Regions from separate parts of the Homo sapiens genome. Here region 2 is linked to region 1. The links come from fine-mapping of genetic effects on gene expression. A gene starts in region 1. The other region holds a variant in brackets. All regions are shown on one strand. Distances are between the middles of the regions. Region 1 holds the start of VIPR2 (vasoactive intestinal peptide receptor 2). Region 2 overlaps VIPR2 (vasoactive intestinal peptide receptor 2).

Region 1 (15,540 bases):
TGTCGGCTACCTAAAAGTCCATGGACCTGGGAGAGACTAAAGAAACACATTAGAATACTATAGCAGCTCTTAAAGAGAATATAAGAACAAATGCAAAACAGTTGCCAAATACATTGTTACACTGAAATACAAAACAGAAAAGAAAAGCAAGATGCCGAGCACATGTGTGAAGAGTATGCCAGCTTCCACGTGTCTGGAAGGAAAAGCGGGGTCTACCCACGTGTGGACGTGTGCGCACCCCAACTCTCCAGGGGCAACTTGGGGCTGGCAGCAGTGAAGTCTGTAGAGACATTTCCCATTATATACATTTTTGAACAGAATTTTTCTATGTGCATATTAGATATATATATGTATATCACTTAATTTCTACTGTGAGAATTTTCATTAATTTGTTCAGCAAAAGCTTTTAAAATATCTCTCTAGATGCTAAGTTCTGTGTGAGACTTGGGAGAAGCAGCAGAAACATGATGCCATCTCCTCTGGGCACTGGAGGAGAAGGACCAAGAAATCACACAGTGAGTTATGATCACGAAAGTCACAGGATGCTGTGGGACAGGAAAGGAAGCACATTTCCATCCTACTCAGCAGCCACCAGTCCTTGCTTTAGGAGTTCATTCCCCCAAGTATGATAGAGAATATGTTTCTCTGACATAAGTCATCCTTCTTTCTGAGGATGTTTGTATAGCAAACAACCTAGGAGAGTTCGATAATTAAGATAATTACAATACCATCTCTCTCTGTAACAAAGGCTGGGGATTTGCCAGCAGCCTCCTTTTGACACTGGGGGTTTCCTAAGCCAGTTCTCCTCAGCTACAACACAAATGCACTGCATCGGAGGGGGCCGCTCCCACTGCTCCTGGGGGGCTTGAGAAGCAGAGGGAACCCGTGCGCACACGCAGCTCATGATGCCTGCTGTGCTGTGAACAGCAAGTCTCTTGTCTCTGGCCCAGCATCTCACGTCTTCTGCAGCATCTGCAAAACTGTGGCAGGCGACGTTGTTAGCCTGCAAGTGGGGAATGACCTCAAACCCTCCATAGTTCCTGACATGTAGATCGAAATTAGTTCAGCATCCATTGTTTTAAAAAAAATCAAAGAAAAGTTAGTTTTTAAGCCTAGCACTTTCCATGGCCTGGTCTAAGCTGACATTCACAGTCAGATCCATTTCAGCCATGCGCCTCTGAAGGATGTCTCAGAACAGTGAGCTCCCAGAACACATAGAGACCACCTCTGCTTCTCCCCAGAGGAGGTCACACCCCTCCAGACGCGGGTGTAAGAATGATATAAAGTCACACGAAAGTTCCTATCCAGCCTGTGCCTAGGCAGGAAGCCTGGACAAAGCCCCCTCAGGGACCTGTGCCTTCCACCTGCGAGTTGGCATGGGCCATGGAAACAGGGCTGGATCTCGGCTCTGAGGCCGGGAGTGCCTCATACACATATCGGCAAGAGAAAGCTTGTCTTAGTGATGCATCGATGTTAAGTCATACAGCTCCAAATAACTCCTAAGCTTACAAAGAGAATCCCGTAAGAGAGCTTAGAATTGAAATTGGTTTCTGTCTGGATTTACGTGTTTTTTTGTTTTTGTTTTTTTTTTAGATTCAACATGTAATAAAGAGAAACATTTCCAAATCAGACTTACACAAATTACCTCATTGGAATTGGAAGCTAGATTTTTTTCACCTCATTTCTGGCACTCTTTCACACAAATTTCTTAATCGTATGGATTTAAAAGTGGCTGTAACAGACCCTCAGTATCTCATCTCACCTGGCGTCAGGTGCAAATGCACACTGTTGTCTCGTGGAGTCACTCAGCCCATCTAATCAGACGCCTGCCTCAGCCTCAGCCTGTAGATTCCGGTTCACATCGCTGATAGCATCTTTATTCTGGTAACTTACTTCTATTTACATCCCTGGCATTTGAGCCACGCATATTTCAAAGAGTACAGAAAAACAAAAGAGTGGCCAGGCTGAGGCCCCGGCATGCTGCTGCTTCTCTCCTGAAGGGCAGTGTCTTGTTACCAAGTACTTCGTGCAAGTCAAAAAGGTAAAACAGATCAGATACAGATATTTTTCCTACAGAGCTGACACTGGAAATAAGAGCCTTCAATATGAGATGTCCAGGTAGACACCTTGTCGCTGCAAGAAAGCCGAGTGACAAGTTTCCCAACCAACGCTGCCTGCGAGGGGCTCTCGGGCCTGCATATGAACCCGCTCAAGCTGGCGTGGGGCTGAGTGACTGCCTGGGACCTGCGGCCCCTAGCGCCCGATATGACTCACACACGGACTGCCCACTGAGGGGGAGCCCCTGTGAATAGTGTAAATGTGCTGACCTGCCTTTGGGTGAGGGTGTTCCAGGAGGCGTCGCCAATCTCAGGTTAAGCTAGGGTCCAGCTACCGTGCAGAGAGCCATCAGATGGCTCCAGGCTCCCTCAAAATCTTTTTTTTTTAATGTATTGTTTGCAAACTTTTAAGAAAGTGGAATATTTTATATAAATCTGCATTTCTAATATCCCATGAAAACAGGAAGCTGGACAATTTGGAACTTGGAGGTGAGGAGGGCAACCCTAAAAGCCTGTCTCTCCTCAGGACTACCTTTCCTAACTCAGAACTTTCACTGGAAGAAGGACCTCCCATGGCCACGCTGCTGCTTCTGCCGTGGCAGACTGGCTGCCTCCTCCATCCACATCTCCTGGGCCGCATCAGCATTTCCCAGGACAGACTCTCAGCATGGCTTCAGCCAAGTTACTTTATTTGCCTTTCTCTGGACAGAGTTCAACCAGACAATCTGGAAGATGGGCCAGAACCATGCGTGCACCGCGGAATCGCAGATCTTTACAGCCGGAAGAAGCCTCGGAGGCAGAGCCTGCACGTTTCAGACCAAGAAACGGTGGCTCAGAGGGGGATGGGAACGGGCAGGGACACCTGTTTTAGTGACAATCTACAGCCCATTGTCCAGCGTGGAGACCGCTGGCCGCCTGTGGCTACTGGACCTTGAAATGGGGCCCAAACTGTGTCGTGCTGTAAGCACAAAAAACACACTGGACTTCTACAACTTAGCATCAAATAAGAATGCAAAATTAATAACTTCAGGTTGATTATACGTTGAAATGTTAACGATTCAGATTTATTCAGGTAAATAAAGGATACTATTAAAATTAATCTCTCATGCTTCTTTTTACTCATTGTAATGTGGCTTGCATTCTGTTGCTGCTGGGCAGGGCTATTCTTGAATAAAGCCCACCATCTGAGGCCCTCTACAGGACAACAGACTGTTTTAACACAGATTTAATTTCTTTCTTGAAGAGGAGAAAATCATGACAAAGAGCAGAGAAAGCTGAGGGACAAAGGCCTTGCTACTATTTATAGGCCGGGTGCTATCCCAGGGCAGAGTCTATAAACAGGTTGATAGCAGGCCCTGTTGGAGCATGATGGCCCAGCATGCCTCTGTCAAACCGGAGAAGGCGATCTGCACGTTCACAGTGTTCACCGCAGGCCCGTCTTCAGCACAACCAAAGTCCCATTTTCCTGTTTGCTTTCTGCCAAGTACCCACCATCCTTAACCAGATCAAAATCATCTGTCCTATAGCTAAGAATTTAAAATGCAAGAATTCAGATAAATGCTTATCCCCTGGAAAACTGAAGCTGCTTTTGCAAAGCATAACAAAGCCCATGAAATTGTTTTAGTAACTGTTGCTATCATCTCAAACCATGGAAACTGTTACTGCTAAGGATTAAGGTTATCTTTTTAAAGGTGTGTGTGAAGACCCTACCTATCCAACTCTCTCTGAGTTTTACCAGTAGTTCATTAACAAACAATGGGAAGTGGCCTTTCTTTTTCTTTTTTTTTTTTTAAGATGCAGGTGGTGACCCTGAACCACAGCTGAGTGAGGCGCATTCCCGGGTGAGAATGTCACGGGAGTTCTTACTCACCAAGCCTCTGCCTTACCTTTGTGTTTTTCTGTTTGAGACCTCAGAAGCTCTGCACATTTTGTTTCTTCCTCCTGTATTTCCAGATGAAATCGGCATTCTGGGTGAATGCTGTTCACCTGTTCACGGTTAAAAGAAATATTAATAACTAAAAATTCCACAAGAAGAAGAAAAGCAAGCAAAAATTCTACAAAAACAACCCCAAACCTCACAGCTTTAAACTGCTTCCAAACCAAAATGCATTTAAAACCAATCACCTTGATTTTTCTGGCATTTTTTAAAAACTTCACTATTTACTTTGTAAAGGTATTATAAAACAAACACAAAATCTAATAGAATTTTTTTTCTGAGCAGGAAAATGAACTTACTAACAGAATACATCGGTACTAATTTGGAGGCAACAGAGCTCTTTACTCCATTCATCTCTCCATACCCGGCTCCTCCGTTTCACACCCTTTGGTTTGGTTTAAGCGGATGCCTGTGGACTGTGCCGCTTCCTCCGAGGACGGCCTCCACCCGGGAAAGAGCCGTGATAGAAGGGCTTTATTTTTAAAGGTGTTGGTACATGTTCAAAGCTTAACCCTCTAACTACAGATAAAACTGCAATCGTTTTGACTAGAATTTGGGGTGGAAGAGATATTCAAAGAAATCAGCAAGATGAGGAGGGAGGCAGAGGTGGGGGAATCACACCATTGTGGCCCCACAGAGAAGAGGGGGCGATTTCCAGTCAGGATCCATCAGGGGAGCGAAAGGTGCCACAAAGATAGTAATTAACAGTCTACTAATGTGAGAAGAAGGCAGAACTACACAATGCTTCCTCTCAGAAGGCACCGTTTCTACCTTGTTCTTCACGCCCTCCGCGAAGTCAGCACAGGCCTGCCAAGCGGCCCTTGGGGGCTTAAGGAGGGCTCCCCCCACCCATCCTTTTGGTCTTGATCTTCCCCCTCCCCCACCACCGACCAAAATTCTACTTGTACTAAAGTAGTAACTAAAGAGAATCATACTGTTGGGCGTACTATGGCCATCTATGTTTAGTTATCTTACTATTGAAATGGTCAATGAGAGTTCCAACCAGGAACACAATATCCTAACAGAATTAAGGGGAAAACAATGCTGGAACTTCTGCCACCTTCAGCCCCATTTAAAAGAGCCCCGAGCTTGCTTCTTGCTCGTGACTGAACCAGCACCAGGCACTGACTTTGGGCTCCAAGTCCTCTGTTTTCATGCAGGACAAGTAAGTGGCTTAAATTTCAGAATTAAGGAAATTATATTGATGTAAAAAGAAAAACTTTGTTAAAGTGTAAAAGACATTAATAATACCTGACGTTCCTGGAATATGCACAGCAATGACTTCTTTTAGGACATTTTAGCAATGAAAGCAGCATTAACCGTGATAAAACCCGTTACTTTCCAAGGACCCGCTCCGCAAAGCGCCCACCCTCGAGGGAGGAAAGCCGAGCTGCGCCTCCGCGCAAGGCCAGGGAGTGTGGCTCGAGCCCCGCTGCAGACCGGGCGTCGCCGGTTAATCAATGACACTGTCGGGTCAGCAGCGCAGCCTCCCAGCTGCGGAGGGGCCGCGGATCGATCCAGACCTGCCTCGGCTGCGACGCGCACGAAAACCGCGCGCACCGCAAACCCGCTTCAGTCTCCAAGAGGAAAGCAAGAAACAAGGCTCGGGTTTTTTTCTTTCTTTTTTCTTTCCTTTTTTTTTAAGGTTCACAGAGGGAATAATTCAGAACTCCATGTGCGAAGGCACTTAATCAACAAACTTATGAGCAGTTAGTTCCTCCAGTGCCCTTGGGAAAAAGCAACTATTTCCAAAAGGAAACTTTATTTAACCGACGCCACGTCCCCCCGACACTAAAACTAACCAGTAAGTACAGGGAGGGACCGAGAGGCATCTGCGGCCAACGCCAACCCCGATCTCCCCGTGAAACGCGCAGCCCGCGCAGGCGCCCGCAGCTCCCAGCTCCCGGGACGGCCCCGAACGAGCTCATCGTTGACGCGTCCAGGAAGAAACGATCCCGTTTCCAGCAAACCCCGGACGGTGGGGCGCGGGGAAGGGCGCAGGCAGCCTCCCAACCCGAGTCCCGCAACCCGGCGGGACCGGAGCTCAGCGCTTCACGCTCTCCGGGAGGAAGCTCCGGACCCCGGGCGACCCCGCTCCCTCTCCCGGACCCCGCCCGCGCTCCAGCACCCGGGAGGAAGGCGAAGACCGGCGGGAGGAGCGCTCTTCTCGGAAGGGGAGAACCGGGTCCGAGGCGCCGTGGGGCGGGGGTCGCGGGCGCACTCACGGGGGCGAGCAGCCAGCAGGTCAGCAGCGCGGGAGGCAGCAGCGTCCGCATCCCGAGCTCAGCGTGCCGGGGGCCGCCCAGCGCCCGCCGCCTCCGTCCTAGGTCCCCGCGGTTCCGCCGCCTCCAGCATGGGCCGGGAGCGAGTGCGCGGAGACCTCGGGCCCCGCAGCTGTAGCCGAGCGCCCGAGCGCGGGGGCCGCCCCCTCCGTCCCGGCAGCTGGAGCGCGCTCAATGCACGCCCGTCCCCCACGCGCCCCGCCGCTCCGCCCCCCGCCCCTGTCCCCGCCCCGCGCTGCCCCAATCCTCGTCTCCCTCCTCCCCCGAGAACCCCCGCTCCGCGCCCCTCCTCACCGCCCCCCACTTCCCCTTCCGCTGCGCCCCGCGCCCTCTCCTCGCCCCTGGGCTCTCTGTCCCCGCCGCGCGCGCTCCCTCTGGTCTCCTCGACCCCCCCAGCCTCTCTCTCCGTTCTCCTCCCCTCTTCCCTGGCCCACGCCCCCCTCCCGGCCGCGCCTCCCCGATCTGTGGGCGGAGGGGCTGGGAAGCGGGGTGCTCAGTGCGCGCCCGGCTCCGAGTAGAGAGAACTGGGGGAGAGCGGCCGGCGCGGGGCCGGGAGAGGAGGACCGGGCCAGGTGTGCGCTCGGAAGGGGCGGATGCCTTTGCGGCCGCCTGTACCTGCCTTTCTAAACAACTGCGGAAGCCCAAGAAAGCGGCCAGAGACCCGTCCGGGGTGGGCGCGCCGTCTTTGTAGCCAGTGGGGCTAGGTTGGGGCATCTGAAAATGGAGAAAATCAGAGTGCTTTTTGGTGGGGATCCCCGCAGCCTCAAAGAGGACATCAGGTCGAACAGAAAGCTGGAGAAAAACGCAGACGGGGGTATAGGTGGGTCCCAGCCTCAGCTGGGTGGCGGGTTTTGTGTCCTGCGTTTGCAAAACGGGGGTCATTCTCTCCCCGCAAACGCGGCGGCGGGTGGGGAACGCTGGGCGGGGACTCACGCGGTGCCACTGGGGCCGCCCCGCCGCGCCCCACGCGGGACTGCGCGGCCTCCCAAGGCGCCCGCGTGACCAACCCAGGAGAGCTCGGCGTTCCCCAGCAAGTGGAAAGCACTGGAATGAGAGATACAAGTTAAGTTCGTGTTGTTTTAATTTTTTATTTGGAAATAATTTCAAACTTACACAAAAATTAGAAGAATAAGAATATTACAAATAACTCCTTTTTATCCTTTTTGTGGATTCGGTCATTAACATTTACCTCATTGGGCTTATCATTTGCTTCTCTCTGATCCCCCACCCCCCGTATTCACAGATATCGATTTTTCTATCATCTGATGTTTATCATCCACATTATCTATCATCTACCTATCCATCATCTACGTATCATCTATCGATCTGTCATGTACCTATCATCTATCATCTTCCTATCGATCATCTATCTGTAATCTGTCATCTATTATCTGTCATCTATCATCTACCTGTCCATCATCTACCTTTCATCTATCCATCTGTCAGGTATCTATCATCATGCGCCTATCATCTATCATCCACCTTTCCTCTATCACCTACCTGTCATCTATTATCTATGATCTATCCATCTATTATGTACCTATCATCTATCATTTGCCTATCTTTCATCTGTAATTTACCTATCTATAACCTGTCATCTACCTATTTATCATCTATCATCTGCTGTCATTTATGATCTATCCATCTATCATGTACCTATCATCTCTGTATCATGTATCAATCAGCTATCATCTACCTATCATCTCTCTGCGATCTATTACCTATCTATTACCTACCATCTACCTATTTATCATCTATCATCTACCTCTCTGTCATTTATCTATGATCTGTCATGTACCTATCATCTATTATCTTCCTATCGATCGTCTATCTGTAATCTATCATCTATTATCTGTCATCTATCATCTGCCTATCCATCATCTGTGATCCGGCATATCTGTGATCTACCTGGCTGTCATCTATCAATCACCTATCATCTGCCTATCTGTCATCTGGCTGGCATCTATCAATCACCTATCATCTGCCTATCTGTCATCTGCCTGTCATCTATCAATCTATCATCTGCCTATCTGTCATCTGCCTGTCATCTATCAGTCTATCATCTGCCTATCTGTCATCTGCCTGTCATCTATCATCTGCCTATTTATCATCTATCTGTGATCTATCATATCTGTGATCTGCCTGTCATCTATCAGTCATCTATCATCTGCCTATTTGTCATCTATCTGTGATCTATCATATCTGTGATCTGCCTGTCATCTATCAGTCATCTATCATCTGCCTATCTGTCATCTGCCTGTCATCTATCATCTGCCTATTTGTCATCTATCTGTGATCTATCATATCTGTGATCTGCCTGTCATCTATCAGTCATCTATCATCTGCCTATCTGTCATCTGCCTGTCATCTATCATCTGCCTATTTGTCATCTATCTGTGATCTATCATATCTGTGATCTGCCTGTCATCCATCATCTGCCTGTCATCTATCGATCATCTATCATCTGCCTATCTGTCATCTGCCTGTCATCTATCCTCTACCTGTTATCTATCTGGCTTCATCCATGTGTATCTAGTGGGAGACGAGGAGAGGGAGACCTGGGCCTTAGGCGGGCTGCTTGGCTTGTGAAGAAAGCTCGTGGCGCTGGGTGCCTTCGACAAACGCATCTTTTTCTCCCGGTTCCACCTGGGTGAGCGATGAACTTTGAGCTCTATGCATTTGTAGGAATGACAGCACCTGCCCTTCCACCGCAGAGGGGCTCTGTAATAATCAAGGTGATTAATGCACACGTCAATACCTTGTTGAGGGCCTGCATTTTAGAAGTGACTGTCCAGGGTGCAGTGAGGGGTTGCATGATGGGTGAGTCTTCCCCTGCAGCAGTGCGTCCCGATGGACGGGGTAGACCAGGAGAAATGGCTGTGGTCGTAGCTAGATGGCACACTTCTCTGAAGGTCCAGTGTGTGTGTAATCACGGGCTTTGCTGAACACCCCAAACCCTGCGGTTACCTGATGCTCTTAGAAAAATGACCAAAGTTCTCAATATGCCTTTGTAAACAAAAGATAAAATTCTAAGCCCCCCAACCAACTTAATGGACTCCCCTCTTGGCCAAAGGGATCCCAAAGAAACCTGAAAAACGAGTTCAGGCCATGACAGGGAGAGGGGGTTGGGCAGGCCTCACTACACCCTCCTTTCCTGGAGTTCATGACCAACATTAACATAAAAACAGAGCTCCTAAGGCTGACCAAACAGACTGTTCATAGCAATAAGATAGCAAATTCCCACCAGACTCTAGTAGAGCATCACATGACGGCCAGCAGGCCCTGAAGAAATATATTTCTTTGACAGATTTTGAAATGGCCCAGCAAAGCTGTCTGTTGGGGAATCTTGCACTCTGTGGAGAATCCCTGTCCGTCACTAGGTCTTTCTGGAGAGTCTGACACCTTTCAAGGCCCTGATAGTAGACATTCACATTCACTCTCTCTGAAGCCTGCTAGCCGGAGGCTTCATCCACAAGAACCTTGGCTTCCACAACCCCCTTTATTTTCACTCAAGCTGATATCAAGTCTTCAGGCAGATCTTAACTCTGTTTTACCCAACGGCCAATCAGGAAATCCTGTAATCCACCTGTGACCTGGAAGGCCCCACACCCCGCTTCAAGATGTCCCACCTTTCTGGGCCAAATCAATGTATACCTTCCAGATATTGCTTTATGTCTTTTCTTGTAACTTCAGTCTCCCTAAAATGTATAAAACCAAGCTATACCCTGTCACCTTGGGTGTGTGTTCTTGGGACCTCCTGAGGCTGTGCCCTGGGCCATGTCCTTAACCTTGGCAAAAATCAACCTCTAAGTTGATTGAGACCTGCCTCAAATACATTTTGGTTTACACCTTTGAACAGGCAACCACCTGCCATGCTGGGCCTGGCCTGGCTTTGCCCATTGCCCCAGCGTAACCGTTACTCGTGTCCCCCTATTCTTGGAAATGTCCTGGTTTGGACATATTATGTGAAGCACATGGTCACCCTACATGCGAGGCCACACCTGATCTGGGCCTGAGTCTCCTCCTGGACCCGTCTCGCAGCCTCCACTCTGCCTCTCATGCCTCAGCCTTGCTGATCTCTGGAAGCCCCAGGCACGCTCCGCCCCAGGCACCCTCCACCCCAGGCACATGCCTCCCAGCTTCCACCTGTCTTGGCTCAGGTGTCTGCCTTAGGAAAGCCCTCCCAGTCTGGAGAAGCATCCTGCCTTTCCTCGCTGGGGCAAAAGCAGAGACCCTTGGACATATCTAAGCAGAGTTTAGTGCCAGGCCAGCCGGGGACCCTACTCAGCTCAGCAGGAGGCTCAGCGATGGAGGCAGAGCAGCTGGAAGAACATCTCAGATGGTTTGTCCAAGAGACGGGCACACACCAGTGCGTGCCGCAGCCTGCCCGGGTCCCCCTCCCACCCCAGGCAGGCACACACCAGCGCATGCCATAGCCCTGCCCGGGCCCCCTCCCACCCCAGGCAGGTGGGGCTCACAGAGACAGGCCACCAGCCTCTCCCTTCTGCTTCTGACCAGTTCTTCCAGGAGGTGTCTCTTTCTCCTCTCCTGGGGCCCTGACTGTTGCCATCCTCCAATTTCTCAGACCAACCAGGCTCAGAGTTCTTTAAACTTCCCTTTACAAGGAGGTGTTGCCACTTTCTTGGAGAACTATTCTTAGCTTAATATAATATGATGCGATAGGATACAATATTTAGAGAGATTATTTGATGTCTGCCCCTCCAGTGAATGCCCAGCATTGTGGGTTTGTACAGCAGGTGTTCCCTGTTTGTTGATGAGCAAGTGGGCAGATGTATGAGTTACTCCTGGTTCCACTCACTCCAGTCTGGAGGGTTCAGCCAGCGGCTGCCAGGACAGCAGGGCCCCACCCTGAGCACTCGCCCTCAAGCCCAGCCCAGAGCCCACGCTTCGGCTCCACAGGCAGGGAGCAGGTCAGTGGGGCTGCCCTCCAGACCCTTCCCCTCGCCAGGGCGTCCTCACTTTCTGGGTTATGCTCTCCTCTCTGATTCCCTTTCAAAGGAGAAGCAAGAGGTGCTAAATCGCTAACATTTGTGGGTGAATTGGTAAACCAGGACTTTCCTTTTTGAGAGATGAGGCCCGGGTGGGGCCTGGTGGGAGGAGGGAGAAAGCTGTCAGCTGAGCCTCCCTGGTCATCATCGGTAGGCATCGGTCATGCATTTATCACTTGTCCAAAATTCCGAGGGTGTGGGGGATCCAGGGAGCATGGAGAAGGGGAGAGGGGGTGAAAGGAGGGTCCTGGGAGTGACGGGGGACCCTGCAGGCCGGGAGGCCAGCGATTCCAGGCCAGAGGGTCCTGGAGTTCAGAGAGAAGCAGGGTCTGGTTTGACGGCCATGCCACCTTTCCAAGTGGCTTTTTAGGGAGAAGAGAAGAAAACAAACAACATTAAAGGAACAAAAGAGGGAACTATTTTTAGCTGCGTGTGAAGCAGAAATAGAAATCTCATTGGGGAGTAAATTGGTGAATGAGACTAAATTTAAAAATTTGCTTAGAAATGAATAGGGAAGGATAATTAATGACTCAAGTGGTCCTTTAAATAATTAATAATGTTCTCCTGGGAGTAATTAAAGCATCACATGAAAGTGAGGCATTTTCTATGCCTAATTGTTCTCAGTTACTATTTTTACACACAAAACCAGAGTTTTTACAATATCAAGAACTTTGTCCTCGTATTTTCATTAAAATACTGATTTTTTGTTCTTAATCTTTTTTCCCATTTTCTAACCTATTTTGCTAGGTCCTCTCCCCAGTTCTGAATGCCCTTTGGAAGAGGATGGGGACAGACAGATGAGGGTGACGGGATGGAGATATTCCCTCAATATAAGAGTTTTCAAAGTGTTATTTGCTGCCAATTACTAAGCCATGCTTTCCCAAGGCATAACGCTGACAGTGGCTGATTAACGTCTCCCTTGCTGGCGTCCTGAGGAGCAGGGTCTTCTCTTTTATTTTCAACCCTGTGGCAATCAAGAGCCCTGGGCACCCAGAGGCCCAGGTGTGCCGGCTCTACCTGGAAGCATTTTCTGATCTCTCCGGACACAAATCTCCTCATTTGTAAGGGGAACCAGTTGAAGGGCTGGTAGACTATTTCAGTGACCCCCAGAACCCGCAAAGGCAAACTAGGGTGACATTTAAAAACTGAATTTAGCTTCATTTTCATATTCACTTGGAGTCTTTAACAAAATAAACTGACATTATGAGGCGTTTTGCCTCCTATGCTCTCAAAACCGGAAATAAAACCCCTTATAGTTTCTTCTTTTTCATCTTTGGAAGACAGAAGCCCTGGAATGTTGGCACACCTGGGATCAGGAGCACTCCTGTGGCCACAGCTGTGTCTCGGCTGTGCCGTGGGATTCTGTCCTTACTCCAAGGATCAGCTCCTCATCTGAAGGAAAAAGGTATTACAGTGACAGCTCACTCATCAAAAGATGACTTTTCCAGGAAAGTCGCTGTCTGAAAATTGCCAAGACCAGGGACATTTGTAATAGCCCGGTTCTAGGAAAGCCAGGAGGAAACTGCTCTCTGACAGGGAGGCCGTGAATGCTCCGCCACGCAGAGCTGAGGTCTGGCTTAGACCCTGAGCCCAGCCACCTCTGGCAGTGGGGACCCTGTCTCTTCCAAAGGCTGTGGGCCCAGCTGACCTCATGGCTGGCCCTGCTCACCCCCAACCCTCAGTCCTTTCAGACTCCAGGGATGTGTCTGGAATTCCATAATCACAGTTGGAGCTTCTAGCCTAGGGCTGCGGTCAGCGTTTAAGCACAGATGCCACTGCGGAGGGGAACTCTTTACATTGGAGAGCAGAGGACAGGAGTGTGAGGAAATGAGGGGTGAATGAGCCACAAAAAAGGGGGGCCGGGGATAGAGATTCTCAGGGTAAATTTGTCAACCTCAGAATTTTTCTGTGACTTTACTTTCAATGAAGCTCAATTTTGTGAAAGCTGATGTTACTTCTGAAGTCTTTAACAGAACGATGCATACCTGTGGAAATACATTTTCTTTCCACTTTTTCTATAATCTCTATTTATAGTAAATGTGTTAAATAGCTACCTATTTTAGAGCATGTGCAATGTGCCAAGCCCCAAGCCAGGTACTAGGAACTCTGAATAACTTCCTGTCTCGTAGGGACTGACACTTGGGGACTAGCAGAACCTTTTAGGAAAAGCCACACACCCTATATTAGTCAGAGTTCTCCAGAGAGACAGAACCAACAGGACATGATGTAGATATGGGTATGTGAGAGGGGGATTATTGGGGGCCTAAACCGGCTCACAGAATTACGGAGACTGTGATGTCCGGTGATGTGCCCTCTGCAAGCTGGAGCACCAGGGAGGCTGGTGGTGCAATTCAGTCCAAAGGCCCGAGAGCCAGGGGTCCCATGGTGTAATTCTCCGTCCAGGGGTCCCATGGTGTAATTCTCCGTCCTGGGGTCCCATGGTGTAATTCTCCATCCAGCGGTCCCATGGTGTAATTCTCCGTCCAGGGGTCCCATGGTGAAATTCTCCGTCCAGGGGTCCCATGGTGTAATTCTCCGTCCAGGGGTCCCATGGTATAATTCTCCATCGAGCGGTCCCATGGTGTAATTCTCCGTCCAGGGGTCCCATGGTGAAATTCTCCGTCCAGGGGTCCCATGGTGTAATTCTCCGTCCAGGGGTCCCATGGTGAAATTCTCCGTCCAGGGGTCCCATGGTGTAATTCTCCGTCCAGGGGTCCCATGGTGTAATTCTCCGTCCAGGGGTCCCATGGTGTAATTCTCCGTCCAGGGGTCCCATGGTGTAATTCTCCGTCCAGGGGTCCCATGGTGTAATTCTCCGTCCAGGGGTCCCATGGTGTAATTCTCCGTCCAGGGGTCCCATGGTGTAATTCTCCATCGAGCGGTCCCATGGTGTAATTCTCCGTCCAGGGGTCCCATGGTGTAATTCTCCGTCCAGGGGTCCCATGGTGAAATTCTCCGTCCAGGGGTCCCATGGTGTAATTCTCCGTCCAGGGGTCCCATGGTGTAATTCTCCGTCCAGGGGTCCCATGGTGTAATTCTCAGTCCTGGGCTGAGGGCTTGCGAGTCCGGGGTCTGCCAAGGTAAATCCCCAAGTCCTGGGGTCCAAAAGCCGAGGAGCCTGGAGCTCCAAAGTCCACAGGCAGGAGAAGCAGTGTCCCGGCTCTGGAAGGGAGAGAATTCTCCTTCCCTCTACCTTTTTGTTTCCTCTGGGCCCCAGCCGATTGGGCAGTGCCAGCCCACAGTGAGAGCAGATCTGTCCCACTCCGTCCTCCGACCCATGCGCTGATCTCCCCAGAGACACCCAGAAATCATGCTTCACCAGCTTTACAGATGTCCCGAATCCAGCCAAGTAGATGCCTAAAATTAACCATCAGACACGCACATGTGTACCGCGCCTCCTTGAGGAAAGATTCTATCCCCCGTATTTTGCTGAGATTTGTGGAGGACTCTAGGATATGACATTTCCCACGGGCACAACGCTCCTCTTAGAGCCTCGAACTGTGTGAGACACCAGGGACTTGCTGCTTTTCCCGGAAGCGGGTTAGAAACTGTGCATTACAGCCTGGAGGGCAAAACTCACTAAACTGTGCATTAGAGCCTGGAGGGCAAAACTCATTTTCCAAATATTAACTACTCCATTCGTGACAAGTTTTGGATTTTAAAATATCAGGTGAAAAATTTTCTACACAAATAAATGGATAGGAGAAAACAAATGCGTGCGATCGAACTTCATGGCAAGTGTGGGTTGTTTTCAAGAAACACCGTCCTGGGTGAGCCTGCCTCTGCCCCCTCCTTCCCCTGTGCTGCGCCTCTCTGGCCTCTGCCACCCTGAGACAGCAGGACCAAGCCCTCCCCTTTCCCCTCCTCCTCAGCCCCTCCAGGTGGGGACGAGGAGGATGAAGGCCTGTAGCTCTGGAGAACAGAAGGCAAGCTTGGAGGCGGTTTGCAGTGCTGCCGTCCTAGTCACCGCTCCCCGTCACACCAGGAGGCAAGGCTTTCACGAGGCACACTTCCACTTTGTGAACAGTAAAGTTAGTCTCTCTTATGGTTTTCTTAATACCATTTTCTTTATCTGATTTTATTGTAAAAATACAGTATGTAATACATGCAGCATACAAAATACGTGTTATTTACCTATTCATGTCAGCGGTAAGGCTCCTGTCAACAGAAGGCTATGAGAAGCTAAGTGTTTTGGGGAGTGAAAAGTTCTTTGTGGATTTTCAGCTGTGCAGGGGGTGGGAGGCTTTGGGCCCCAA
Region 2 (15,540 bases), 35 kb before region 1:
GGCAGAGCTGGGGAAGTTTGCACGGATGGACCAGAGCAGAGCTTAAGGCCACACATCCCACACTCGGGAGAAACATCCTCATTACTGAAAGATCACAGCCCTGCAGAAGGGTTCACAGTGGACATAACACCCAAGAGCTCCAGATCACTGCAGCAAGTTTGTGCAGCCCGGATTGGGGGGTCCCCAACTCATCCTGGGACCCCTGCTCCCAGACACCTCTTGGCGGAGGACAAGCTGGGTCTCTTAGTTGAAAAGACACCCTAATTGTGATCACATCTCCTGCTGCAGGCTCAGGGCTCAGGAAACCATGGCGCTGACTTCTCAATGCCCCAGAATGTGGCAAAATCTTAAATGGGACAAGAAATCCAAATGCAGAAAGGGCATGCTCTCCAGGACTCATCTGAAAAGTAACTTTCGGGCAGGCGGGGCCACTCTCAGGTTCTCCTCACCATCTCCCAGACACATACACAGCAGGTCAAGAAAACCGGCCTTTCCCTGCCTGCAAAATGACGGAACAATCAAACAATCCCAAGTGCCAGCAGCAGAACGGAAACAGGGACTTCGCTTAACTTGGAAAGCAGAAAGTAGCATTGGTACTCAGAGGATTATTTAGGGGAAAAATCTACATAATTCTTGCAGGGCAGGAGGGGGCTTCTGGTGCAGTGTTAGGAAGTGGAACCTCACCACCGTAGCACCACGCAGGAGCCTACCTTGCTCTCATCCTCCGGGTCGCTGTAGCCACAGGCATCGACGAAATCTGGGAACGTCTCTGACCATCCGTCACTCGTACAGTTTTTGCTTATGTTTCCTGGAAAGTGAAGTTCAGATATTTTATCTGCAAGTCCATGAAAACTGGCCTTAGAAGGGACCTTAGTCCGTGCTGAGCCCGTGCTCTATTAAAATGCTTCCCACACCCAGGGGTCAGCTAGGAGACAGGACTGCCACTCAAAAAACCTTCCTTGCCCTCCTAGTCCATGTGACCTGGACAGCAGGTCACCTCTCGGGGCCGGTGGGTCCTGAGATGTGAGTGAACGCACTGTGTCATAAGTCATAATTACCGCAACTGTAAGTGTAGTTCTTTTGGGGCAGAATGAAAATTCTTAACAGACTCTTAGGTTCTGCCACCATAAGTGATATTTATAGCCAAGCCCTGGCCATCCTGGAGCCAGGAGCCCAGCCTGCCCCAGTTCCTGACAGCACCCTCCCTCCTCCCGGCCAGGCCCTCACCACCGACAGTGACCGGGTACCCCGCCTGCTCCAGTTCTGGGCAGCACCCTCCCTCCTCCCGGCCAGCACCCTCGCCACTGACGGTGACCAGATGCCCCACTGCTCCAGTTCCCAACAGCACGACAGTGACCAGGTGTCCCGCCTGCTCCAGTTCCCGACAGCACCCTCCCTCCTCCTGGCCAGCACCCTTGCCACTGATGGTGACCAGGTGCCCAGTCCAGTTCCTGACAGCACCCTACCTCCTCCTGGCAGCACCCTCCCTCCTCCCAGCAATGCCCTCCCTCCTCCCAGCCAGGCCCTCACCACCGATGGTGACCGGGTACCCCACCTGCTCCAGTTCCTGGCAGCACTCTCCCTCCTCCCGACAGCACCCTCCCTCCTCCCAGCAACACCCTCCCTCCTCCTGACAGCACCCTCCCTCCTTCCAGCCAGGCCCTCACCACCGACGGTGACTGGGTGCCCCACCCAGTTCCTGACAGCACCCTCTCTCCTCCCAGCCAGCACCCTTGCCACCGATGGTGACCGGGTGCCCGGCCTGCCCCAGTTCCTGACAGTATCCTCCCTCCTCCTGGCCAGGCCCTCACCACCAACGGTGACCTGGTGCCTGGCCTGCCCCAGTTCCTGACAGCACCTTCCCTCCTCCTGGCCAGGCCCTCATCACCAACCGTGACCCAGTAGGGCAGGCTCCATTTGGCCACTGGTGTTGGAAGAAAGGATGGCGGAATTACAGTTTAATTGTAGGAAACCAAGGCAGTTGTTCCCTTACAATCTCATCTTTTGCGCCTACGGAACTAAAATCATATGTAAGCTCAGAAATTCAATGTTCCTTGTATTTGTGTGTGTCCTTAGCAGATGGCCACACAGAACAGTAAGTGATAAAGCTCTCGAAGGTGTCCGAGCCGTAAGAATAAAACCAGGCACTGAACGCCGTGCCAGCCTTGCCCCGAGCATGGCTGCATGGTGTTAGGGTCACCCCCACAGCAGAGCCCAGGAGGCCGGACCCCTCCATGCACTCCTGGCACAGCCAGAGCGGAGCCCCTGTCTCCCTGCCTGGGTGACTGGAAGGGTCTGGGGCTTTGGATTTAGCAAATATTTTCACTCCCGTGACTTTTTAATTTCAAGACAACCCTGCAAGACAGACTTGGTGGGCGCTGCTGTTCCCATTTTACAGAAGGGGAAAACAAGGCTTTGAAGACTCAGTAGTTTGAGTGGGGTGCGTGCATGATTCTTGTCCTGCAGTGATGAGAGGCAGAGAGAGGGCCGGGCCAGGCTCTGGCTGTACTGGGGAGGAGTGGGGTGGGAGACTGGTCTCAGCAAGGCCTCAGGGCTGGCCCTGCCCACTGGCACCCCGACACCATCACCAATCAGGGGCTCTGACTACAAGGCCCACACCTCACACAGGGAGCCCCAGCAGGGTCTGGGGGCCTCTTAGCTGCAGAGACCCCATACACGGTAGAGGCAAAACAGAGCCCTAAAGCAGGCAAGCCTCCTAGAGACCTGGTCCCACGGCCCCATTGTGCAGACAAGGAGACAGGTCCACAAAGATAAATAATGTGCCCATCACAGACTCAGGAACAGCACTCATAATAGTTATTATAATAATACTAGTCATGTGGTAGTGGCCACTACGACTCACTGAGCCCTCAGGAATGCCGGGCTCTGTGCTTGCATCAACCCAGTTAATCCTGACACCACAGGAGGCAGCTCTCCAATTAATCTCAGAGATGAGACGGCCAAGGCTGAGGAAGTCGTGTCACTTGCCCAAAGTCACACTGGTGAGCGATGGGCCAAGCGCCACACCTGACAGCCTGGCTCTCACCTGAGCAGGGCACCTGCAGGCCCCTATCCTGAGCCTGGAAGCCAGGACCTCGGTGGGAGCTGAGCCTGTCACTCATCCTCTGCGAGGTGCAGCCTTTTCTCCTTCCTACGGGAGATCAGTGTTTACCAATCCAAAGAAGATGCTGAAATAAAACTCCACAAACTAAGTCAGAAAGTCATTCTATGAAGTGCAGATTCCCTCACAGGTTCTTTATCCTTTCTGACTTCTCACTCCTGAGACACATGGGGCAGATGTGGAAGGACAGGAAATGACTGAGGTGGCAACCTGCAGAGAGATCAGGGAGGTACAGAGAGACCAGGGAGGGGCAGAGAGAGGCCAGGGAGGGGCAGAGAGGCCAGGGAGGGGCAGAGAGAGGCCAGGAAGGGGCAGAGAGAGGCCGGGGAGGGGCAGAGAGAGGCCAAGGAGGGGCAGAGAGAGGCCAAGGAGGGGCAGAGAGAGGCCAGGGAGGGGCAGAGAGAGGCCAGGGAGGGGCACAGAGAGGCCAGGTAGGTGCTGAGAGAGGCCGGGAAGGGGCAGAAAGGCCAGGGAGGGGCAGAGAGAGGCCAGGGAGGGGCAGAGAGGCCAGGGAGGGGCAGAGAGGCCAGGGAGGGGCAGAGAGGCCAGGGAAGGGCAGAGAGAGGCCAGGGAGGGGCAGAGAGAGGCTGGGTAGGGGCAGAGAGGCCGGGGAGGTAGAGAGAGAGGCCGGGGAGGTACAGAGAGAGGCCGGGGAGATGCAGAGAGAGGCCAGGGAGGCACACAGAGGCCAGGGAGGGGCAGAGAGATCAGGGAGGTGCAGAAAGAGGCCAGGGAGGTGCAGAAAGAGGCCAGGGAGGTGCAGAGAGATCAGGGAGGTACAGAGAGAGGCCAGGGAGGTGCAGAGAGAGGCCATCCAGGGGCAGAGAGGCCAGGGAGGTGCAGAGAAAGGTTGTGGGGGGTGGGAGCACACTCTCGCCCACTTGCAGGATGACGAATACTTGAAGGCCTCCCTTAGGGCTTCAGTGCTTCTCAGCGACTATTCCAAGCCCCATGAGCCTACATCATCCTCCACTGGGGGATGTGCTGATGCCCCTTTAAAGGATCAGAACCACACCTGGCCCTACACCTGTGCTGGATGGGCGGCTGAGCTGCTGCCCTGGGTCTGGCTAAAACAGTGCCATGCAGAATTGGCAGGTGGGCACCAGGAGCAACTGGAAACACAGAAAGCAAGTCAAGGGAGAAAGGTCAGCACACAGCTGTCGGAGCTGCCTCCTGGCCCCTGAGCATGGGGCATGAACAGCAGCTGCTCACAGAAGGCTGTCCTCCCAGTGATGAGTCCTCGTGCCTCTCACCCTGGCTCCCTGCTTCCTTTGTTCCCCTCTATGCAGACAGTTGGCTCATTGCCTCCTGGAGGGGATGGGGGCAGGAAATGTCTGAAGCACCTAATCCTCACAGCTTTCCCCAAGCAGCAGTGGTGAAGTCCAGCCCGGGTGGGAAGAGGACTTGCATCCCGGGTCCCACTGCTGCAGGGCAGGGTTAGGACCTGGGGAAGGAGCTGCCCGCTGCTTCTGGAACCGCTGCAGGGCAGGGTTAGGACCTGAAGGAGCTGCCCGCTGCTTCTGGAACTGCTGCAGGGCAGGGTTAGGACCCGGGGAAGGAGCTGCCCACTGCTTCTGGAGCTGCTGCAGGGCAGGGGTTAGGACCTGGAGAAGGAGCTGCCCACTGCTTCTGGACAGGGCCCAGGGTCCCGCCTGGCACAGAGACACAGGGCGCCAGTGTGCTGGTCACTGTGATGATGCACAGTGCCGGACACACGTGATGATGCCCAGAGGCCACCTGCCTAGCATAGGACAGACAGCCCCCAAACCTCCCACCTGCTGGAAGGATGAGAAATCAAAAGAGAACACAATGTTTCATTAGAATGGTGACTTATTTCTGGAACACCTGGGTTTGTGGGCAGAAATGATTCCACGTGTGTTCTATGACCCAGCTCTCCTTACAGGTCATGGGAGGAGCAGCCATCACATGTGTAGAGTGTTCTGTAGACCACAGAGCACCATGCAGACGCAAGCCTGACTTTCATTTCTTTCTAAGACTCTACAGTTATCCCACCAAATTTAGTCTCTGAAGCCTCAGCTTCTGTGGTACGATGCCAGGTGGCTTCACCCCAGCCCTGCTCGGCCCCCAGTCGCATCCACATCTCTCTAAGTATTTGCAAAGGATGCCCATTTAATGCCCCAAAGATGAATTCCATGCGGACATTCCATGGGGACCATCTGTCCACAGTTTGTGCATGTCCTCGCATAGCTCACGTTTTTGTGATCAGTTGAAAAAGCAGAAGCATATTTCCCCTGCATTTCAGATCATCTAGCTGCGACTACTCAAGTGCCCAGACTTGGGGAAACACCACAAGTTTCCTCACAATAACAAGGTGGTGTCATGCTCCCTGCTTGGGAAAAAGGTGGAATAAGCATTTAACCCAAAGCCAACTGGGAGTTTTCATTCTCACAGGCAGCAGCAGGATGCTTCCAGGCAGGGCCAGAGCCTCACTGACCTGGGCGCCTGGTGCCCAGATGGCTTCTGTCTGGCAGAGGCTGGACTGGATTCTGGTGCTTGCTAATGTGCAAACTACCAGGCTGCTGGGTGCTTTCTGGAAGCCTCAGAACCATGCCATCGACTAGGAAAAGCCAGAGTCCATGCCAATTCCCTCCAGATCTCCAGGAGAATGGATGCAGCCCAAGCTGCTCAGTAGAAATGCTACTGATTGGAGGGAACAGTTCTTAAAGTTCAGGTTCTCTAAAGTGACTTAGGTTCTAACTCAGGGGTGGGCAGTGATGGTAATGCAAGCATGGTCCCTACCTTCAGGCTGCTTTGCTGGCAACTCGGGGTGAGAAAGTCAAAATCTTCCTTTCGGAATCTCCTTCTCCTCTGTCCCAATCTCTTTTCCAAAACTCTGCTTTAAAACACTACAGCATTATTACTTCCCAAAGTCTTTACCCTTTAACCTCTGTCCAAGATAAAAGTAAATTCTCCATAGTGCTCCAAAGTATTATGCTTTCTGTTTCCAGATGTTTCCTATGTTTTCTATTTTTCTGAATAGATTTCTTCACACTATGAAAATCTGAATCACTCACAAAAACAAACAAAACCTTTCTCTCAGGATTCAGCCAAGAGATATTGGCAGCACCGCATACGGAGCATGCCCTGGGTGCAGAGGAGGAGCCTGGAAGCCCAGAGAAACTGCAAATTCCAGGCAGCATCAAACCTGTGAGGCGGCAGGGAGGTTGGGGGAGTGGGTTCGATAAACTAGGTGTGTCCTGGGGCCTCTGCCCTGAGCATGGAGGCTCTGGGTGCCACACTTCCCACTTCCCAGAAACTTCCAGAGTGTGCTCTCTGGGGCTCACAGGCCGACTCAGTGGGAGGAGGGGAGCCTCCTTTAGGGCCCCCTTGCCTCCCCTCCCCTCTCATGCACGTTTCCCGTGCTTTGGTTCCCATTTGGCTCCTGTCTCCCCTGGTTCTTTCCCTGTAGTTGCCCTGCTCTCTGGGGTTTGGCTGAAGGCAGGTGATGCCCTTCTGCTCCCTAAGACGGGCACTCACCCCAATATGCCACAGCTGTTCCCTGACCCCCAGGGTAGCAGGAGATGCCTGAAGGAAAGTGATGTTCCTGCTTCTTGGATGGAAAAAATGGACGCTCAGATGCAAACACCCTGGAGGAGCTCAGGAACTCAACCGACGGACAGTACCTGCTTTGCTGTAAAAATTGCTGAAGACTTTTGGGCAGGGCACCGTGACGGTCTCTCCCACATTGGCAGGCCGCCAGCACGTGATGTTGTCCCAGACGCCACTGCAGGCTGGAAGGAGAGAAGCAGAGTGAGGCAGGTGCAAGGTGACAGAAGTGTCACAAATAGAAACCCCATTAATGAGATAACTGCCTCGCAAACTCCTTTCCTGTGAAACACACTTGCACCAACACAATTATTGAGACTATAGTTAGCTTGTGGGTTCATCTCAATTAGCTTTGGAGGAATAACCATATGGTGGTAGAAAGCATTTGAGTACTTCAATGTATACCATGTACCTTCTGAATTTTAAGAGAATCATTACTTACTTCTTGTGATCAGCATTTCCTAGTGTGATGAAATGGGCACCACTGGGTATTAGTGTAAGGCCCCGTCGGGGAGGGAGACGCCCAGGGAAAGTGTGCTTGTGCTTCTGTGGAATCTGACTTCAATGATTATTTGCAAATAAAAGTATTTGATAATATTTGTTTGATTTTTCACTGTCAAGATGCCTTATTAGCAACAAAATCTTAGGTTACCTTCATGGAGTTGTCAAATAATTTGCATAATGCATAGCTTAAACATTTTTAGACCTACTATTTGGTCTTAATAACCACCTGGTGAAGGTTAGATATAAAAATGTTGCATTAATTATCTTCCAGATGAAAAGCACTAAGGTTCAAATCTTTTAATGAATTCTCAATATCACACAACAGTGATGGAATGCATGTTAAACCCAGGACTTTCCTACTTGTCCATGGTATTTATACTATATTTGAGACCTC[TA/T]AAATTTTACCTTTTACTTAAACCTCAGTATCAGAAAAGCAATGTGCTAGCCTTGGTCGGTAAAACAAACAAACAAACAAACAAACAAACAAACAATCAGTTTTCCTTTCAGCACATGCCACCCAGACCTGTGCAATAATTGCAGGAATACATCCATAGAGAACACACAGCTTTGGTGTGAACAAAGGAGTGTTTTACTTTCAAGAATACAGAAATGTCTCTGAAAAGCTGGCCATAAGCTAAGTTTTGCAGATGAAAATAGTTTCTAAATACTTTCAATAAAAGTGAAAATATATTTATTATAAAATAAAATTACATACCAATACTTGAATAAGTACATAAATTCATATTACATTAATGTTAACATATTTAAAGAAAATGTTGGTTTTCTTTTAAAATGTTCAAAACAAGTGATCAAATGTAAATGCATCACTAGAAACTCCAGGCGTGAGCCCCCGTGTAAGGCTGCTTAGAGTCTAAGTAGTAGAGTTATTTAAATGCTAAGTTCGTAAACCAAGCACTTCTAACTCTGGTGTGTAGGGCAGGTGGTGGAGAGGTGTCAGGATGGGGTTCCTAGCCAAGAGTGAACAAGATGGAGAGGAAAGTGAAGATGTCTAGGCCTCCAAGTGAAGACTCTGCATGTGATCAGCAAAGTTCTGTCCATCTCCTATAAAACAGCAAGCTCTGGCAGTTTCGTGTCTGGTTATTTTGAAGGTTCAGCTTTTTATCACAAAATGACAAATTTCTACCTTGATAATAGTAATGGCTGGGTGTGGTGGCTCACACCTGTAATCCCAGCGCTTTGGGAGGATGAGGTTGGTGGATCATTTGAGGTCAGGAGTGTGAGAACAGCCTGGCCAACATGGTGAAACCCCGTCTCTACTAAAAATACAAAAATTAGCCGGGTGTGGTGGTACACACCTGTAATCCCAGCTACTCAGGAGGCTAAGGGAGGAGAATTGCTTGAACCCAGAAGGTGGAGGTTGCAGTGAGCCGAGATCGCATCACTGCATTCCAGCCTGGGTGACAGAGCAAGATTCCGTCTCAAAAAAAAAAAGCAATAATTATATAATATTGTTATTTTAAAATAATGGGCTGGGTGTAGTGACTCATGTTTGTAATCTCAACACTTTGGCAGGCTGAGGCGGGATAATCCCTTGAGCCCAAGACTTCAAGACCAGCGTGGGCAACATAGCGAGACCCCATCTCTACAGAAAATATTTAAAAATTCGCTGGAGGTAACAGAGCATGCCTATAGTCCCAGCTACTAGGGAGGCTGAGGTGGGAGGATCACTTGAGCCTGGGAGGTCGAGGTTGCAGTTAGTAAAGATCATGGCACCGCACTCCAGCCCGGGCGACAGAGCGAGACCTCGTCTCAATAAATAAACAATAAATAAGATAATGTATAGTAAGATAACTAATACATAATACAAATTATAATGCAATAATTATATACTGTATAATACTAATTGCTGCTTTAAATTTCAACAGAGATACTAAATTCATACCACATCAAACAGTCTTTGCATTACAGTAGGATTTGATTTAAACATCTAGAGCTAATCATCTGATCCCTTCAATGGCCAGGGAAAGTCTTCTCTTCATTTGTTCCTTTATTGGACCGCACGTGAGGGAGCAGAGCTAGACGCTGTCAGGATGTGAGGAAGCGGACTCGAGGGCGTCAGGGCGCCGAGGCTGAGGTAGCAGCCGGAAGTGCAGCCGAAGGCGCAGCCGGAAGCGCTGCCACAGTGCCGGTCGCACACGTGGCACTGGCTGCAACCTCCTGGCAACAGCTGCCAGGCGGGAACACAGGAGTTTCTCTCTCAGCTTCTCAACCTCACGCAAAGGACAGCCAAAAATTTGAAAGGGCAGCACCAAGAGATGTCACTACAGCCTTGCAGACAGAAGCAACTGTGTTAAATAGGCAGGCAGAGGAGGGGGAGAAGCGAGAGACAGGCCATCGGTACCCCCGGCACCGGCAAGGGTGGAGGACGCTGCAGGGAACCGACGGGACCCGGCCGAGAGCCCCGACTGTGAGGAGGCGGCTCACGGCGCCTACCTGGGACCGACCCTGACTGTGAGGAGGAGACTCACGGCGCCTACCTGGGACCGACCCTGACTGTGAGAAGGAGGCTCATGGCGCCTGCCTGGGACGGGACCCGGCTGAGAGCCCCGACTGTGAAGAGGAGGCTCACGGCGCCTACCTGGGACCGACCCTGACTGTGAGGAGGAGACTCACGGGACCTACTTGGGACCGGATCCTGACCGTGAGGAGGAGGCTCATGGCGCCTTCCTGGGGCCAGATCCCCAACCGAGGACCCCGACTGTGTGAGCAGGAGGCTCACAATGCCTGCCTGGGGCCAGACCCCAGCTCAAGGATCCCGACTTGGCAAGGAGGGGGAATCCAGAAGGAGTGGCTCTAGGAGTGAGAGAAGAGAGACAGACCCTCTCACATTGTTTTAGATTGTTTTATACTCAGAAAAGGAAACAGAAGCGAAACTAAAGGCAGGTAGCCCAGCGCCTAGGAACCAGACCCGACACCAGGCCTGGACCTGCCTGACCTAAGCCTGGTAGTTAAAATTTGACCCCTGACCTAGCAACTGATGTTATCTATAGATTGCAGACATTGTATAGAAAGACACTGTGAAACTTCCCGGTCTGTTCTGTTTCACTCTGACCACCCGTGCATGCAGCCCCTGTCACATACCCCCTGGCTTGCTCAATCAATCATGACCCTTTCATGTGAAACCCTTAGCGTTGTGAGCCCTTAAAAGGGACAAAAATTGTGCACCTGACAAGCTCGGATTTTAAGACGCTAGTCTGCCAATGCTTCCAGCTGATTAAAGCCACTCCCTTCACCATCTCGGTGTCTGAGGGGTTTTGTCTGCAGCTCGTCCTGCTACAAGAGAAAAAATGGAACCCTGAGACCACCTCAGTGCAGTGTCTTGAGAGTGTTCTGGCCTGAGGTTTGATGCCTAATTATTGAGAGGTAGGTGAAAAACCCAGCAACAGAAAAACGAGGAAAAGCATAAAGTTATGAAGAAAGGAAATGCTGGATATTATGTGGCTCAACTGTGATGGCAATGATGTACACCAGCAATGTGAAGTGAGTCTATCAGGAGGCTGGCAGGATGATAAATTATACTTGGGTGGTGGGAATGGCACAGGAGAGATAGATCTTTATTCTTGTTAGAAATCTAATGGACACTGGGATGTAAATTGGGAGGAAGAAAGAAAAGAAACAGGAGCATAAGTATGCTGTTTAGAAATAAAATAAATACCAGAGAAGAGATGAAAGAGATGCTGCCATAGGGCTGAGAACTGGGGATGACGAGGGGCCGGAGACTATTATCTTCATACAGCCTTGTAGTATCATTTGCCTTTTACAATTTTATAAATGCACTCTGTTGAAAACTAGCATTTAAAGTGTATCATTATATTAAGATACCCATTTTTAAATGTTTACATTTTTAAGGAACATTGTGCAGGCCAAAGCAAAATAGTGCATGAATAGGTCATCAGTTCAGTGTTGGACATAAGTGATTCAAATTTGGCACAGTGAACCCTTTGGGAGAGGCAGCGAATTTGGGAGAGGCAGCAAGTCCTTCTGTAGGAGTGTGCGCCGAGGCACAGGACGGCATGGGAGGAGAAGGGGAGGCAGGCAGGGCCACCCCCGAGAGAAGCACAGCCACTTGGAGACGCCTGTCTGTTTGGAAAGCAGTGGGCAGCTGAGATTTCATGAAACAAAGGATTTGCAGATGGAGTGAGAAACAAACAAAAGTGCTCGGATAAGGCAGTCAGGGAAATGGGACTTGTTAAGCTCTGGTGGCAACCTAGGTTTTCCAGATGGTGATCATAAAATCAAAGGTCGCTCTGAAAAGTGGAAAATGTATCAATAGACTCTGAAAAGTTACTTGGTAAAATTCAGTGGCCATTTCTAATTTTTTAAAACCCTAAATAAAATAGTAAAATAATGAGACTCCCTTAACATCACAGAGAATATTTGTTAAAAATAGCAAGCATTAAGCCAGGCACTGTGGTAAGTACCTGCAGTCCCAGCCACCCAGGAGGCTGAGGTAGGAGGATTGCTTGAGCCCAGGAGCTTGAGTCAAGCCCGGGTGACTGAGTGAGGCCCTGTCTCAAAGAAAAAAAAGAGGAAAGAAAGAATAGAAAGAGAGAGAGGGAGAGAGAAAGGAAGGAAGAAGGGAGGGAGGGAGGGAGCGGGGAGGGAAGAAAAAGAGAAAGAGCAAGTATTAGACATGTTTAAACAGAATTGTACAACTGAGGAGCCAGGTTGGGTACCTGCAATTCATTATTATTCAACAATGTGTCATAAGTTGCAGCTAAAACAGCAGATGAAAGAAGAACTAAGAGGTATAAATTGGTAAAAAGTAGAGAAAAAACCCTAGAACTGTACTTTCTATATGGCAACCACTAGCCTCACATGGCCATTTAAATGAAAGCTAATTAAAAGGAGATGCAGTTAAAGGTTTGGTTCCTCAGTTGCAGCCGCCGCATTTGAATGCTCCGCAGTGGAACTTGGCTGGTAGCCATCACACCAGCATTTCCACTACCATGGGAAATTCTACTCGACAGCACTGTCTAGGGTCAGAGTTAGACAAATGCAACATAAACCCAGCAAACCTGTCTCACAAATCAAGAAGCAAAAAGAGAGAGAAAAGAGCAATGAAACCCTTTGGCTCGCACACCGAGGCAGAAGCTCAGAGGAGCCGCTTCTCTGGGTCATTGTTCTTCGGCTAAAATGTCCCATGTAAATAATCCAAAATACCTTTGAATCAATATAAATGATAAAGTTGTTTCACTTATCACCCCAATCTTCCTCTTTCAAAACTTGGCAGAGGGGTAGAGAAGGAGCCTCCTCTGATCTCAGCAGCCTCTCACCCAAAGTCATGGTCAGGGCTTGGCAGGCAAGCCTGGCTGAAACAGGACTTCAATCTGTCTGCTTTGGACGTCTCACCTTAATTAGAACACAGCAAGGTGTGTCACCACTAGTGCTTAGAATGTGTCACCAAAGCCCCTGAGCTCAGGCTTGCTGGCTGGGTCGTCCCTTGGCCTTTTCAGATCACGCCCCTGACGTGCTGCCTGCAGCCTCCAAGGTCAGGGTGCTGGGAATGGAGGAACTCAGGCTGGCAAAGCTGGTGTCCGAGCTGCCCCACGCCCTCTAGCTGCCCTTCTCACCTCCGATTCCGTTGCTGCTTCTAGTCTTTCCTAAGCACTCAAGTCAGCTTCCTGGGGCCACGTGCTTCCTTTCATATACCAGCTTAGGCTGCGTTTAGCTAAGTAGTCAGGCAGCAGGTGTGAGGCATCGATTTGTTTGTGAACAGCAAGGTCTCCCAGGGCTGCTGTGAGCTCCACCCATTGGACATGGGGTCTTGTCCCCACCCTGCTATGTGGCCCCGTGACCTGTGCTGACCCCTCGGACTGACAGGCTCTTCCTTCTGGAAGGTGGTCATCACGGAAGGGCTGGAGCAGTTGGTGGGAGCCCTGGTCGGAAAGGCTGCAGGGAGAAGGCTTAGGCACCTGCTGAATGTAGGAAAGGAACAGCTTGGGTGACGTGGGCAGAACCTTTTGGGCCAACCTCAGAGCCTTGGGAGGAGCCAACTACTAATTTTGAAGCCAAGTTTCAGGAGATTTGTGCCATAGCCACACATAACCAGGAGCAAATCTTCCTGGGAAGCAAACAGCTGGCAGAGCAGAGTCACATGGGCCCTCCAGAGGGCACTGCAGTGGGTTGGCACCGGCATGGTCAGTGCCCGCATGGTCAGTGCATTTGGGAAAGCAAGTGGGCAGAGTGGGCAGTGACCGGTGGTCAGTCACAGGGGCTGGTCAGGGGGCTGGAAGCTTCCAGGCAATGAGTGACTTTTCAATGTAGACTGGCAGTGGTGGCTTCCTAATTTTTGCTTGAAAATCAGCTTAGTCTCCTGAAAAAGACACTGTAGACTAAGTCGTTCAGAAAAACGGACCCTGTGATGGTGCAGCCTTCCGACATTTCTGAGGCTTCACAGCATTTTCAACGGAATACACAGGGTTTGGGAAAGGCTGCTGCTTGAACAAGTTCTTACCGGTATGCTGGGAATTCCTCCAGGTGGAATTCTGAGGAACACAGCAGTAACTCAATTATGTGACACCTTCCAGCCAAAGGGGAGTGCGCACAGAGTGGGGAGGAACCTACAGGAACCTGCAATCCTACCGTATAAAAGACGCTGCCTTCTGTCCAGAGACTCCCTAGGAAGTCCTGGCTCTTACAGATGACGTTATAGGTGTTACTTTGAGCTCTGGATTTGGATTTATTTTCTCATTATTTCAATGTCAATGACATAAACATCAATTAAATTTCAAGAGACTCTTACGACATGCTCCCCCTTATCTAGGAAATGACTTTTACATATACTCCATTTTGTCCTCCCAGCAACTCCCTGAAGAAGGCGAGAGCCCCTGTCCTCACACTGGGGAGGAGACCAGGTTCACAGAGGGGAGGAAACACACTCTGACCACAGGACGGAGTGCGGGAGCCAGCCGAGCAGTCGGGCTTCTGGGTCACTGCCCTTTCCCTAGAAGGTCCCTTGCCATCTCAGACTGCATGGGACTTGCTTTATCACCAGTGTATACCACACACGAGGCTTCCTGTGACTTAATTTCTCAATGATTTTGTAATTATAAAAGCACTGGTCATGGAGCCAATGGGTAGGTATGTGGGTCCAGGATCCTCTTTAAACCTCCGGCGTGAATGAGGATGAATCCCTTTGTATGGCCTGTGAACAGACAGGATAACAGTGAGCACATGAAACATAGTGCCGCACCACACAAAGGCAATGCAGGACGTCATCTCAGAGGTGGGGCTGCACCTGCTGACCTGAGTCATGGACACAGATGGGTGCAACTCCAGTTGTCACCTGCACCATGCTTGCCACGCAGCTCATGCTCTCTTTGGACAATGGGCAGCTCTGGGAGGTGGTGCCCTAGATCTTCCCATGGTTCCCCCACACCCTCCTTCCATCTTCAGAGTCACCTGCCCCTACCCCACATGCAACTCCACAGAGAGTGGCAGCTGAGGGTGGGTGGCCCAGGAGGCCCGAGTCATGGGAAGCCACCCTGCTGCTGTCATCAGTGACCAAGTGTCAGCAGGACTTGGAGGAGGGGCATGAGGGCTGAAGCTGCTTCATCCAGACAGGGCTGGGGAACAGCTCTAGGAACCAGCGAGTGGGAAAAGGAAAGCTGAGAAGCAAAGCCTCCTGAGACTGGCCATCGGCTCGGATGACAGCTTGCCTCCAACGCATTTAGAAGCAAATATTTCCAATCGCATCCTCCACTCAAGAAAGCTTGACTTATGTCTCAAGTGACAACAACAAAGCTTCCTCCAGAATCTGGGCAGAGCAGGAAGTCCCAGCTGGTTCTCACGGGGAGCTCAGAGAGGCCGGGGGCGTCCCAGTCATCGAATACTCCCCTTGCACAGCAAATAACGGGCTGAAGGATGAGCCACTCTCTTCCTGCTGGGGGGCTGCTGAAGCCCCTGTGACCACTCCTTCCGAAGGTGGGTGTTTAAATACCTTCCCAGCCGCATGTCTGAGTGGTTGAGTTCTCTGCAATCCTCGCCGCTTCTGCCCCAAACGGTAACAGGATTCTTCCTGGAGATAGCCACGAGGAAAAGACCTGCAGGAGGAATTCCGATTGCCTGGTTGTGATGGAGTGTGCTGCTGGAGACCATTTTCTGTGTCTCAAGGAGCTGCATGTGAAAGCAGTCAGCCTGGTCCATCTCAGGGAACGAGCTTAAAACACAGGTCCTGATGAGCAAGACCAAGGCGGGAGAACAGCGTGCTCAGCATCCCACCTCCCCTGCCTCCTGATCCTGCCTCTTCCTGTGCAGTGCTTCCAGGTTCAGTGGGTGTTTACGGTGAATGAGACGGAGGGGAAGGAAGAGAGAAATGGAAACGT

What was found.
Region 2: its variant is fine-mapped to the expression of VIPR2 in whole blood (INTERVAL, PIP above 0.99).

Annotation. Positions count from the first base shown.
Region 1 is chr7:159,138,503-159,154,042 of GRCh38, forward strand. It overlaps VIPR2 (vasoactive intestinal peptide receptor 2), which reads right to left and starts at 6,365. Exons shown (of 13, transcript NM_003382.5): 1 at 6,219-6,365; 2 at 3,944-4,043. The coding sequence starts at 6,269. RefSeq lists an enhancer at 8,163-9,362.
Region 2 is chr7:159,103,047-159,118,586 of GRCh38, forward strand. It overlaps VIPR2 (vasoactive intestinal peptide receptor 2), which reads right to left. Exons shown (of 13, transcript NM_003382.5): 3 at 6,766-6,873; 4 at 711-808. Among named protein-coding and RNA genes, the nearest start is that of VIPR2, 34 kb to the right of the region's middle. RefSeq lists an enhancer at 9,702-10,377. The variant TA/T (reference allele first, on the strand shown) is at 7,587.